2 linked regions of the Homo sapiens genome follow. The protein of the gene in region 2 purifies or fractionates together with the protein of the main gene of each other region. This does not show direct contact. Each region holds a gene or a part of one and is shown on either strand. Other genes may lie near its edges.

Region 1 (7,361 bases), on a different chromosome or scaffold from region 2:
AGCACCAATAAAATGAGGTATGTCCGTATATATATAATAACAATGCTTTTCAAATAAGTGAATTACTTTAATTGTAATTATTTTAACTCTCATGCCAAAATTATTTCTTCAGTTCACTGCTACCTTCTTAGAAACAAATTTTTGTAGTTGAAAGGGATACCTTAATTTTATATGAATAAAAACAAAGGCCTTCATAGGTTTTTACTAATTCTACATTATCCAATTTAAAATATGAACCCAGAAAATTCAAAATTTAAGAGAAAAATAGGGGAACAATGCAGATGTGAAGCAGCAAGTTAACATGTCTTCAGTAACACTTAGCCTACCTGTCTGAACCAGCGGTTGCATTTTTTGTAAGCCTTCTTTTTTCTCTTTTACCAGTTTCTGGAGCAAATTCAGTTTGCCTTCCTGGATTCGTAAATTGTAATGACCTCAAAGCTTTAGCAGTTCTTCCCTGAAGAAAGGTAAACAAATTATCAACTCAAATCTTGACAACAGACAACAGATTAACATTTTATTTAATGTTAAACCAGACGATTCCCTAACATGGAAGACAGTCTGGAACACACAAAAAAGAAAACAAGGTTTTAGAGCCTAAGTGCAAGAAAATTTACATGGCCCTAGACCATATTCAAAGCATATTGGTTAATGTATTAGTAACATTTCCATTATTTTATTTTAGTCTCTGGTATATTAGGAGCAGAGGAGGAAGGCATTGTGAAAACTGCAATGGCTGCTGCCAACACAGGAGAGAAGGCACAAAAACTGCTATATAATCCAGTGGCACATAACTGATTTCCTAACAATCCTGGGTCCTTATTATTGTATTTTATATATTTTTAAGAGCAGAGAATATGATTTCAAGTTCTAGAATAGTATTATAATCTTTTTGAAAAGTTTTGGTGAAACAAAATTTCGGTGTTTAAGGGTTTATGTTTGTTATTTGGGGAGGAAAGAGCTGCAGCTGATATATTCTACAAGAACATTGGATAGATAAGGTGAAGACATCTACAATGACACTATCAGCAAGTATCTAGTATGAACTACAGATAAACTGGGCCCTCAAGATGTTCCTCTGAGAAGACAACAACAGGAAAATAGTATAATTTCAAATTTCAACTATCTTTTAACTTGGTTTAATAAAAAGGAGAAAACTGAGAAAAATATTCCAGCAGTAAGAATTATGAAATAATTACAAGTAAAAATTCTGAGATGTGCTTCTTTGATATACTTGTCCTACACAAAAGATAGCTTTATGAAAACTTAAGTTGTTCTGATATGGTTAAATATGCATGTAGGCATGTCAATAGGAATAGAGGTAAAATATTTAATACTTTACAATGTAAAAATGTATTATTTTTTTTTTACCTCAAGGAGTCCTAAAATTAGCCTTGACCATATCAAGTAGGAATTCAGAACTAGAAGCAAAGAAAATTCACAAGCATTTAAAAAACTCAAGAACGAGACAGTGTCAAAGGAGAAAAAAAGAGTGAAATAAAAAACAATTACTGTAAGTCACCTCTCTAATGTTCCTTTTAAAGCAGTGATTTCCAAGTCCTTCATATAAAGGCGAAGTCATCCTGCTGCAAAGACCCTTGGTGGTTGCCATGTCCCGTGTAGTTACTTTGGTATCAGAAAAGAAACTAAATCCTGGCTTGGCCAGAATATTCTAAAACCCACTCCTAAAGTCTTCGCACTAAAAGTTGTAGCTTGGAGTCTTAGGCATATTTTATTATTACTTTCCCAGGCCTACTTTCTTTATCCCCCAATCTTGACCTTCAGTATATGTGAATAATATTTAGAAACATCATCCACTTTCACCCCTCCTTTTAATTCACTGTATGCTAACAAATTTAGTAATAATGTAAATATGATTTTCTTATAGTTAAGCAAAATCCTACATGGTAGAATTCACAATGTAGAAAAAAATGACTATTACACATACATCTGACTCAGGTTTCCTTTTCTGGCGGTCTTCAGTATCAACATCCACACTTCCATTGATTATCTGTGTGCATTTTGGACAAAGCTTCCAACCAGGTACAAGCTGTCTTCCAAATTTAGCACTCAGAAAAGTGGCATCATCTAAGTCAATTACATGCAAATTTTTTTTGGCTAATTTCTTGTGTATGTTAAATGGGTCACAACATGACTTCTGTAAATCCTCAAATCTGTCAATGTAAATTTTTACATGATGAAAGCAAATTGTATTGTTCCCAGAAAGTGTCATTCCAGTTCTAAGTTGAAGTAAAAGCATATCATTTGATGACAATTCTTGCAAAGTCTTAAAACCTGTGTGACGAGTATAGTAGGTTTTATGGCACTCATTTGTAGTACGAAGCTGGACTCCAACTGAACATGGATCCATCATTCTTGATTCTAGCAAATTTTCCGTTTTATTTTGTCTGGAGGTTTAGGTCATGGGCTGATCACCCTAGAGAAAATATTAAAGAGAATCAAATTTGTGCTGCAAGTTTATCTAGGAAACTGAAAAAGCATTTGATAAAATTCAACACCTATCTAAAAGAAAATAAGGAATAAAAAAGGTATTTATCGAAGTCTTATAATAGACATTTAATAATCAAACAGAAGCGTTCCCTGTAAAGTCAGAACTTCACGAAAACATCTGCAATTACAGATTATATTTAAGACCACATAAGAATTAAAAAGGAGGAAATAAGAAATATTATCCTAAGATACATGAGAAATACAAGAGGTTTAACAAACTATTAGAACTAATAAGAGAATTCACCAGGGATGCTAGAAACCAAAAAACACTGTATCTTACAAAATATGTGACTCTTACAAAAGACATACAACAAGACCTTCATGGAGAAAATTATCAAACTGCAAGACAAAAACGGTACCCTAAATAAATGCAGCTATATATCATGGAGTGGCTCATTATAAAAAATATGTCAATTATCTGGGAATACATCTGTAAATTCAGTTCTGTTACAATCAAAGTTCCATCAGATATTCTACTGCCACCCCCTTGGAATTTAGCAAGCTGGTCTATATGAAAGAGCAAAGGTCTAAGAAAGCCAAGGTAATCCTGAAGGAAAATACAGTAACATATTGATTTACTTTAAACCTATTCTAATTAAAACTATGGTATTGGTATAGTATAAACAAACAGATCCATGAGTAGATGAGGGCTCAGTATATGACATGTGGTACTATTAATCGATGGGTATCACACACTAATGAAGAAGGGACTTTAACCATATGGAAAAACAATTAGATCTCTTCTGCACAAACAAAAATCAATAACAAGTGGATTAAAGATTTAAACATGAAAAGAAAAACTAAACATGTTTATGAGAAAATAAAGAAGGTTTTCTGACATGGAAGTATGGAAGAATTTTTCAAACAAGCAAGCAGATACCAAAAAAATAAATAAATAAAAAGATGGATATATTTGATTATATGTAAAATTTACACATTTCTGTATAACTAAAGGAGAAAAAAAAAGACACTTGAAAGGTGTTAGGATTATTATCATAAATATTCGAGTAACTCCTCACTTCCAAAAATCAATTAGAAAATGACAGAGTCCACTGGAAAACTAAACAAATATAGTCAGGCAATTCACAGAGAAAGAGAACAAAAGCCAATACATGCATACAAACTGTTTCCCCCATAGTTCCTAGGAAAATGCAAATTAAATATCATTTATTAAACATTTGCTTGAAATCAATTTAAAAATCTGATATCTGGTTAAGATGTGTCCAACTCTCACATGCTCCTTATAATAACTTTGGTAGGAATGTAAATTGCTGCAACTGCTTTAGAACATTTTCTGCAATTTCTTGTAAAACTGAGGAAGCATACACCTTGGGACTCAGCTCTTTTCAGTTCTGGGTGTCAGATGGAGAAAAATATCTCCAATAAGAGCACAAGTTATATACGAAAACTTTCAGCATTCACTGCCTTTGGCAGTGAAAGATGACAAATAACCTAATTGTAAAGGATGTGAAATCGTTACTCATACAAGGGACTCCCACATAACAGTTAAAATGAATAAACTACATGAATTACGTGAATCAACATGAATAAATCTCAAAGACAATCTTAAGTGAAAAAAGTTGTAAAGGTTATATAGTATCATCATTAAAGGTAAAATTTAAAAAGATAAGATAGTACATAAGATTTACAGATGAAACATGAATATATACTAAAATATACATAAGAGTAACATATATCACATTTGTGGATACTTCTGAGGGGAAAAAACATTATTTTCCCCAAAAAGATTTACAGAAAATAAGGTTTGGTGACATGTACATAAGTGCTTCACTACTGTCCATACTTTCTATTTGAAATTTTTCATAAATAATTTTCAAAGCAAATTAAAAAAAAAAGTTGGATTCTCAAGAAAATATGCAACCAATGCAACTCATTAGGAAAAAATCTGCTGTTGAGAAAAAATGTGAACCACTGAAATCTGAGTGGTAGGGAGGGACTGTGAAGTCTAGGATTCAGCAATTTTACAAGTGTTTTTAAGCTTTGCAAAATTAAAAAAAAAACAAAAACTGGAGAGAAATCTTAAACACATTTTGATATGGTTTCTGCAGAGAAAAACAATAATCAGCAAAATCATATAAAAAGAAGACTCTGGCCTCAGGTAACAAAAAATGGCGAATAAATGTCTGTGTTTTAGGTCAAAATACTGTATTTACAAAGTTAAAAAATAAAATACACTTTAAAGTGTTAAAATATGTTACTGAACATTTTAACTGAAAAAAGTTTTAAAGCTGGTAAAAACAGAGTATATTTATATTCATTTACTGTGTTTTAGTCAGTTTTTAAAATGAACTAATACAGGTCCCAATCAAATCAGATAAAATGGCTTCTATCACAGTAATAATTAGAAAAGTTTCTTCTAGCCAGGCATTGTGGCTCCTGCCTGTAATCCCAGCACTTTGGGAGGCCAATGTGGGTTGATCACTTGATGCCAGGAGTTCTAGACTAGACTGGCTAACATAGTGAAATCTCGTGTCTACTAAAAATACAAAAATATTAGTCAGGTGTGGTAGTGCAGCTATATGGGAGGTTGAGGCATGAGAATCGCTTGAACCCAGGAGGCGGAAGTTGCGGTGAGCCGAGATCGTGTCACTGGACTCCAGCCCGGGCGACAAAGCGAGACTCTCATCTCAAAAAATAAAAAAATAAAAAAAATTTTTTTTTTCTTCAAACAGATAATTGGATTAAGATAAATTAAGGAGGAGAAAAAGGAAATCAGAGGTAAAGTTACAAGGCAACGAACTATGTGGCAATGTATATTAGCAAATAAGGGACACAATCTGGCTTTGACCTTTCTTATTTTTTATATATATTTTTTGAGACGGAGTCTCGCTCTGTCGCCCAGGCTAGAGTGCAGTGGCGAGATCTTGGCTCACTGCAAGCTCCACCTACCGGGTTAACGCCATTCTCCTGCCTCAGCCTCCAGAGTAGCTGGGACTACAGGTGCCCGCCACCACGCCTGGCTAAATTTTGCTTTTTTTTTTTTTTTTTGTATTTTTAGTAGAGATGGCGTTTCACCATGTTAGCCAGGATGGTCTCGATCTCCTGACCTCGTGATCCGCCTGCCTCAGCCTCCCAAAGTGCTGGGATTACAGGCATGAGCCACCGTGCCTGGCCTGACCTTTCTTAATACAAGGGAAACTAGGACAACTATCCCTCATCACTGTACAGAAAATAATGCTTAGTATTTTGTTAATGCCAGAGATTCTTTTTATTTGGAGGTAATCATCACCAGTTTTTAGCCACAGATCTATAATGGAACTTTTTTTGCCATAAAGCTATTTCCTAATATTCAAAACTTGGGCTACCATGGTCATATTTGATAGGAAAAGCATCTTGGATTTAGGAAACTAATTACTTTAGAAACCTTATCTGTCCATAGTAATAATACATTTTTACCCTTTAGGGTAATTTCATTTACTCTATTAATTTTAATTTTAGGTAAAAAATTCTTTTCCTTAGTTATTGGGGAGTCTCTGTTCCATTAGTTTCCTTTATTCATGGCTAAATTACTACAAAATTCAACAGAGTTCATCATGATTAAAGGAAACTAATGGAATAGACTCTGTAACTTGTGCCAGTGAAGTTGAATACCTATTTCTGAAATTCCTGGCCTCAAGTGATCTTCTCACCTCAGCCTTCTGAGTAGGTGGGTCCTGTAAGTTGTTTACAGGAAGTTCAGTTTTTCTTAGTAACAGGCAGCACATTGAGCTAGCACCAAAGATCTCTACTTACTGGATGCAGAAAATGGGGTCACCAGACTTGGCAAATAAAAAACGCAGGATGCCCTGTTAGATTTGAATTTCAGACAACGAATTACTTCTTTACAGGATCAGCTCATTTTAAAATTAAAATATCCTATCTGATAGAAGACATTGCCAACTGTGATAAAAACTAAATTTTACACAGATTAAAATTCAGCGGCAAACTAATCCCACTCACTTGAGTAAAACTGCACACACCTGAGTAAAACTGCACACACCTGAGTCAAGGTAGTTTTAAAGTCTTCCATAGGTTAGCTTTCTGATCTACGATTAGGCAGTTTGTTCACATACTGTCAAAGAGTCCAAGTCCAGCTAGCTCAAGGAACACCAAATTTCAGACACTGATCCTAAGTGGTCACTGTTTGCATTCTAAAAATCACACCCTCTGGTTGTTCCTCCTCTGTTATATTCCTCAATGTTCTCATTTCCAGCTCTTTCTGACTTCCTCCTATAAGCTAAAGTTCTGCATTTGGGCCTGTTTCCTAGCAACTGTTTTTGCTCATTTTGGTCTGTGTTCTGGCAATGTGGCCTACAGTTTATATTTTGTTTTCTTCAAATGACAGTCCAGCAAGTTCATATTGTTCCTTTCACCTACAGTACAGTGCTATGTTCTTCCATAACGATGATTTATCTGGCCCCTTCCTTAATATAGTTGGAAATGCATTACTGTTTACTCTCCCTGAATCAGCACTGGCATCAGCTGAGACCTCAGTAGAAATACAGAATCTCAGTATCAGCTCCAGACCCAATGAGTCAGGATCTGCATTTCAAAAAGATACCCAAGTGATTTGTAAGCACATTACAGTTTGCTATGTACTGCTTCAGATAATTCAATTAAAAAATTTAAATTTAAAATGTTTTGATATCTTCTATATTTTATAGAAGATAGCAAAAAAGAGTAAGAAAAACACAGATATGTATTTGCCTTACAGGAAGTCTAACTCTAGGGAAGATTATTGAGGGAGAGGAGATTTAAATTCGATACACTAAGGACAGAGAAAAACATCTGCTTCAATAGAAAACTGCACTGTTGAGAGCACAGCCTTTCAGGTTTTCACATTCTGATTACAT
Region 2 (7,361 bases):
CCGGGAGGCGGAGCTTGCAGTGAGCCGAGATCGCACCACTGCATTCCATCCTGGGCGACAGAGCAAGACTGTCTCAAAAAAAAAAAAAAATTATAGTGGGAAATTTAGATAAAGAAGTAGTAGTTCTCTCGGGGCTGTTTTTTTGAGGAGGTGATCTTTAAGCTTGATCTTGAAAGAGCATAGACTAGGAGGGAAGGTTGATAATATGACAGTTCTGGTCAATTTGGAAAGTGAAGGTTAGGTTTATAAGAAGGTTCAGTTGATATCTCCAGGAAAAGACAAACTACTGTGAAAGAAAGATAGTGTAGTCATGGTAGTCTATCTGGCTATATAGAGAATATTTATAACAACTTAAATATTGATTTAACTGAAAATACGATGAGCTGTAAGAGACGTGTGAACTACAGAACTGGATCTACGAATGACAGGAGGGCAGACCACAGTGCTTTTCACATCCTCCCCTCCTTCCCTTGGGCATAAGACCTGGCTATAGGAAATCTAGCTAATTACAAGAACGTCTTTATAATTTGGAGGGAAACTCTTGGAACTGTGAGTGCTCCCCGTCCAGTGTTACCATCCCCTACCATCCAATTAAAATGTTTCCAACCCACCTCCAAAAAAAATACATATGTGAGCTAAATCTTCATCTGCAATTACAGGAAATCGACATGGCTAAAATTTGTAACTCAAGAAACAGTATGAAAATATTTTAAAATACTGAGATTTTAAAAACAAGTTGTTAAAATTAAAGTGATTGCCATTAGATATTCGGGAGTGCTGGCAAGCAACTGCTTTATTTCATAATGAGCATTTTATACTATTACATTGATAAAACTTGAAAAAAGTAATGTCAGAATTCTATTAGCATTCAGGTGATGCGGATGCTGCTGGTCTATGAACCACACTTGGCATTACTTCATGGTCATTATGAGATTAACTGCCACCTGGCCTGAGTTTTGTTATTTTGTTAACCACTATATAACTCTTAAAGGGCCCTGTCGCTTCATAATAACTGTTTTGTGTTTGTGATAGACTTCTTCGAGTCTTAAGACCCTCCGTTCAAATATTGGCTGAAGTACCTGACTTTGAACAAGATTAGTTAAATGGGTTTTTTCTAAATTTTTACTTTTTAAAAAGAGTAACAGTAAAAATTCAGTTCAGTAGTTTTTTTTAATTTAATGAGAATTGTTCTTATTAAAGTGTTTATTATGTATTAAGATACTACCTTGGAGAACATCACTGGAGAACAGAGATGTTTTATAATGGAGAAACCCAATGAAGCAGGAAAAAACCCAACTAAATCAGCATGCACCCATAACTTCGAACTATAACAGGAAAAAAGATTAAGCTAACTTTTAACCACAAAGATACAGGAAATATGTTATTGCTTGGAAAGTAACATGCTTGTGAATAATCTACAGGTTAAAAAATTACAATGCATCTTAGAGAATATTGGATAAATATCAAATTATAAGGTAGAGTTTTTCAAAACTTGTGGGCTCAACTAAAGTAGGGCTTAGAGGAAAATTTACAGCTTTAAGTGAGAAATTAGAAAAAAAGGTAATAGGCTGGGCATGCTGACTCATGCCTGTAATCCCACCACTTTGTGAGGCCAAGGTAGAGGATAACTTGAGGTCAGGAGTTTGAGACCCACCTGGGTAACATTACACAGGACCCTGTCTCTACAAAACAATGTTTTGTAAAATTAGCCAGCCATGGAGGGACACACTTGTAGTCCTACCTCCTTGGGAGGCTGAGGCAGTAGGATTACTTGAGCCTAGGATTTTGAGGTTGCAGTGAGCTGTGTTCATGCCACTGCACTCCAGCTGGGTGACAAAGTGTGACTCTAAAAATGAAAAGGAAAAAGAGAGACTGAAAAAATATCTGAGTTTTTACCTGAAGCTGCAACAAGAACAGCAAAGCAAACGCAAAGAAAGCAGAAGGAGGGTAGGGCATTGTAGCTCACATTTGTAATCCCAATGGTTTAGGAGGCCAAGACTGGAGGATTACTTAAGCCTAGGAATTTGAAGCCAGCCTGGGCAGCATAATGAGACCCCATCGCTATGAAAAACAATTAGCTGGGTGCAGTAGCATGCGCCAGTAGTCCTAGCTACTCTGGAGAATGAGATGGGAGAATTGCTGAGCCCAAGAGTTCAAGGTTACAGTGAGCTATGATCGCGCCATTGCATTCCAGCCTGGGCCACAGAGAGAGACCCTGTCTCAAAAAAAAAAAAAAATGTGCTGGGCGTGGGGGCTCACACCTGTAATCCCAGTACTTTGGGAGGCTGAGGTGGGTGGATTGCTGGAGCCCAGAAGTTCAAGACCAGCCTGGGCAATAAAAATTTTAAAAAGACCAGGCGCTGTGGCTCCCAGCTACTCAGGAGGCTGAGATGGGAGAATCACTTGAACCCAGGAGGCAGAGGTTGCGGTGAGCGGAGATCTTGCATTGCACTCCAGCCTGGGCAACAAGAGTGAAACTCTGTGTCAAATAAAAAAAGAAAAGGAATATGGCAGGAAATTATGAAATGGAACACTGTATAATAGGAAGCTAGCAAACTTAAAGTACTTTGACAGCCTCTTTTTGTCTTTTTTGTATTTTTGTTGACTTTGACAATCTTGGTACATGTTTAATAAAAATGATCAAGAAAAAGAGAAAAGCACATCACTAATATCAAGAATGAGGCCGGGTGCAGTGGCTCATGCCTGTAATCCCAGCACTTTAGGAGGCCAGGTCAGGTGGATTACCTGAGGTCAGGAGTTCAAGTCCAGCCTAGCCAACATGGTGAAACACTATCTCTACTAAAATACAAAAATTAGCTGGGCATGGTGGTGCACGCCTGTAGTCCCAGCTGCTGGAGGGCTGAAGCAGGAGAATTGCTTAAACCCGGGAGGTGGAGGTTGCAGTGAGCTGAGATCGTGCCACTGCCTTTCAGCCTGGGTGACAGAGTGAGATTCTGTTTAAAAAAAAAAAAAGAAAAGGAGGGACAGCACTACAGGTATTACACATACAATTAGAGAATACTATAAGAACTTTGTGTTGACAAATTTTAAATTGTGTTGAAATGGAAAAATAGGTAAAATTGACACCAAAAGATATAAAAAGTATGAATGGTTGTATTATCTTTTTTTTTTTTTTTTTGACGGATTTTCACTCTTTTCCCCAGGCTGGAGTGAACGGGCAAGATCTCAGCTCACTGCAACCCCCACCCCCCAGGTTCAAGTGATTCTCTTGCCTCAGCCTCCCAAGTAGCACCCGCCACCATGCCCAGCTAATTTTTGTACTTAGTAGAAATGGGGTTTCGCCATGTTGGTCAGGCTGGTCTTGAACTACTGACCTCAGGTGATCCACATGCCTTGGCCTCCTAAAGTGCCGGGATTATAGTCATGAGCCACTGCGCCTGGCCTTTTTTTTTTTTTTTTAAACTGGAGATGACATCTCCAAGATGGTTTTGAACTCCTGGGCTGTTTGAGCCTTGGCCTCCCAGAGTGCTAGGATTACAGGTGTGAGCCACTGCTCCCAGCTGGTTCTACCTCAATTTTAATGGAAAACCTTTACCACTAAGTTAACCCCAGGCCCAAATGGCATTAGTGGTTAATTATTCTAATATTTAAGGAAAAATAACACCATTCACACAGAAATTGTTCAGAGACTAGAAAGACTTTGTAGTTTGTATGAGGTCAGCAAACCTTTGATATCAACACCCAATAAAATAGACCCATCTCTCATTAACATTGATATAAAAATTATAAACATAATGTTAGCCATTTATAGGCCAGGCACAGGCCCATAAATTGTCTAATGTCAGCACTTTGGGAGGCCAATGCAGGAGGATTTCTTGAGCCCAAGAGTTGAAGACCAGCCTGGGCAACATAGTGAGACTCTGTCTTTAAAAAAAAAAAAAAATTAGCTGGGTGTGATGGGCGCCCCTGATGTCCCTGCTACTTGAAGGGTCAGGTTAGAGTCTTGTTTGAGTCCCGGAGGTTGAGGCTGCAGTAAGCTGTGTTCATGCCCACTGTACTTTAGCCTGAGCAACAACGTGAATCCATGTCTCCAAAAGAAAAGAAAAATGAAGTTTTAAAAATGAAACCATTAGGCCAGGTGCGATGGCTCACACCTGTAATTCCAGCACTTTGGGAGGCTAAGGTGGACGGATCACTTGAGGTCAGAAGTTTGAGACCAGCCTGGCCAACATGGTGAAACCCCCTCTCTACTAAAAATACAAGCATTAGCTGGGCATGGTGGTGGGCACCTGTAATCCCAGCTACTTGGGAGGCTGAGGCAGGAGAATTGCTTGAACCTGGGAGGCGGAGGTTGCAGTGAGCTGAGATTGCCTCAATGCCAGTGCACTCCAGGCTGGGTGACAGAGTGAGACTCTGTCTCAAAAAAAAAAAAAAAAAAAAAAAAAAAGACACCATTGGAAAAATCCTATGGCAGTAAAGGAATAGAACAAAAGGCATGAGACATAAGCCAAAAAGTGAAAGGCAGACATAAATCAAGCTACAGGTGGACCCTGAATTGTGATTTGACATGATTTTTAGTTTATGATGCTACAGAAAGTGATAGGCATTCGGTAGAATATAAAGCCATGAGAAATTCAAGACTTCAGTATAAAATCAACTTTGGGTTAAATTATTTTGCTCAATTGTAGGCTAATATGAGTGTTCTGAACATGTTTAAGGTAGGCTTAGGTTTTGCTATGATGCTCGGTAGGTTAGTTGTACCTGTATTAACTGCATCTTTGACCTAGGATATTTTCAATTTCTGATAGGTTTTTTGGGATGTAATACTACTGCAAGTCACACAGCATCTGTATGTCAATAGTAATATGAAGGCCAGGTACAGTGGCTCATGTCTGGAATCCTAGCACCTTGGTAGGCCGAGGATCATTTGAGGCCAGGAGTTTGAGATGAGCTTGGGCACCATAGTAAGACCTTGTCTCTACAAAAAAATTTTAAAATTAGCTGAGTGTGATGGCACATACGTGTAGTCCCAGCTGCTTGGTAGGCTGATGTGGGAAGATCACTTGAGCCCAGGAGTTCAAGGCTGCAGTGAGCTCTGATCTCAGCACTGTGCATGATAGAGAGACCTATCTCTAAACAAACAAAAACAACCAAGTAATGTCAGGTGTGAAAGGATTAAACAATCCCATGAAATGGCAGAGATTTTCATACTGAAGGGAAAAACAGCCTTGGCCTATAGGCTGTTTACAGGAGACAGACTTTGGATTCAAAGATGCAAATAGGCTGAAAGTAAAAGGATAGATGAAGATACAACATGCAAATAGCAACCATAGTAAAGCTATCGTGCCTATACTGATTTCAGACAAAATATACTGAAACAGTATTGCTGGAGATACATAGGGACATTCTATAATGACAGAAGAGTTGGTGCCTCAGGCATACAAATCATAAACATATATGCACCTACTAAGAGAGCAGCAAAATGTATGAAGCAACTATTGACAGAATTGAAGGAAGAAATGCACAGTTCAGTAATAATTGGAGAATTCAATACAACACTGTCATAATGGATAGAAAACTGAGGAAATCAGTGAGACAAGAGACGACTTGAGCAACACTAAACCAACTAGACTTAAGAGATATCTTTGAACAGTCCACCCAACAACAGCAGAATAGACTTTTGGAGTGTATGTAGAACATCCATCAATATAGTCACACTAGGCCATGAAGCAAACCAACACACTTAAAAGGACTGAAATTATGGGAAAGAACATTATCTGACCAGTGAATAAAATCAGAAATCAGTACTAAAAAGAAACTTGAGAAATTTACAAATATGTTGAAATTAACACTCCTAAATAATGGGTCAAAGAAATCATGAGGTTAATTAGAAAATACTTTGAGGTGAATGAAAATGAAGACAAACATATCAAAGGTTTTGGAGGGTACAATTACAGCAATTCTTAGAAAATTTATAGTGATAAATGCTATATTAAAAAAGACCTCAAATCAGTAACCTAGACCTTTTAAGAAAAACTGGAACTAGAAGAACAAACTGAGCCTGAAGTCAGCAGAATGTAGGAAAAAATTAGTGTGGAAATTAATAGAATAGACAAAAATAGAAAAGGAAACCATAAATCATTTTCTTAAACGATCAAGAAAATTAAACATTCAGCTAAACTGAGCACAAAAAAGGGAGAGAAGACTCAAATTACTAAAATCAGGAATGAATGAGGGGACATTACTTCTGACCTTCCAGTAGTTAAAAAAAAAAATTATAAGGGAATACTATAGAATAATTCCAATTGTATGGTACTCCATTTAATAGATGAAACAGACAAATTCCTAAAAAGACACAAAACTGCCAGAACTGACTGAAGAAGAGGAAAATCTGAACAAACATAAACAAAGCAGTGGAATTAGGACAAAATGAAAAGCCCCAAATCAGATGGTTTTATTAGTAAATTCTACCAAACATTTAAAGGTACAGTTCTTCAATTCTTTCAAGAAATAGAAGAGGACAGAACATTTCTGAAATAATTCTGTAAGGCTAGTATTATTTGGATACCAAAAGCAGACCCCAATACTATAGGAAAAGAAAACTGCAGAACGATGTTTTTTTAATGTATAGAGATGTGAAAATCCTCAACCAAATACTAGTAATTTGAAATTAACATAAAAGGATTATACACCATGACCAAGTGAGATTTATTTCAGGAATGCAAAATAAATTTCTCATGCAAGAATCTTTAATGTTAAGTGCCATATCAAAGAGAACAAAGCTACATGATCTTTTTAAGAGATAGTGAAAAGCATTGATAAGATCCAGTGTCCCTTCATGATAAAAACATTAAACAATAGGGAAAGTTTGGAACTTCCTTAACTTGTTAAAAAGCATCTGTAAAAAAACCCACGGTTAACATCATAGTGGAGGATTGGAGGTTTTCCTGCTAATTCAGGAACAAGATGGACCCCTCCTGGCATTTCTATTCAACATTGTACTGGAGGATCTAGTCAGGAAAATGAAGCCCATTTTTTTTTTTCAAATAATAAAAGCATCGAAATTGGAAAGGGAGAAGTAAAATATACACGGATAACATGATTTAATATGTAGAAAATTCTAAGAGATTCACAAACCATTAAAGATAAAAGCCAGTTCAACAAAGTTGAAGGATGGAAGATCAGTGTACATAAATCTGTTTTATTTCCATATACTTGCAAAGAGGAATCCAAAACTGAGATTGAGGAAAGCATATATAATAGCATCAAAAAGTAGTACAAAACATATACTCTGAAAACTGCAGAATGTTGAGAGAAATTAAATAAGTAAATAGATAATCCCATGTTCATCTAGCCAGAGGACTCATATATTTTGGTTATTAACCCCTGATCAGATGTAT

Evidence for each region.
Region 1: the proteins of ATF7IP2 (region 2) and ARL14EP purify together in Homo sapiens (affinity purification with mass spectrometry; 2 studies listed by BioGRID and IntAct, with this or other methods). This does not show direct contact.

What each region holds. Positions count from the first base shown.
Region 1 is NC_000011.10:30,325,959-30,333,319, reverse strand, and holds part of ARL14EP (ARL14 effector protein), read right to left. Parts: intron 6,315-7,361; exon of another isoform or gene 6,262-6,314; intron 2,435-6,261; 5' UTR 2,372-2,434; coding exon 1,946-2,371; intron 455-1,945; coding exon 327-454; intron 1-326.
Region 2 is NC_000016.10:10,388,935-10,396,295, forward strand, and holds part of ATF7IP2 (activating transcription factor 7-interacting protein 2), read left to right. Parts: intron 1-7,361. UniProt on the Homo sapiens protein: Recruiter that couples transcriptional factors to general transcription apparatus and thereby modulates transcription regulation and chromatin formation. Can both act as an activator or a repressor depending on the context.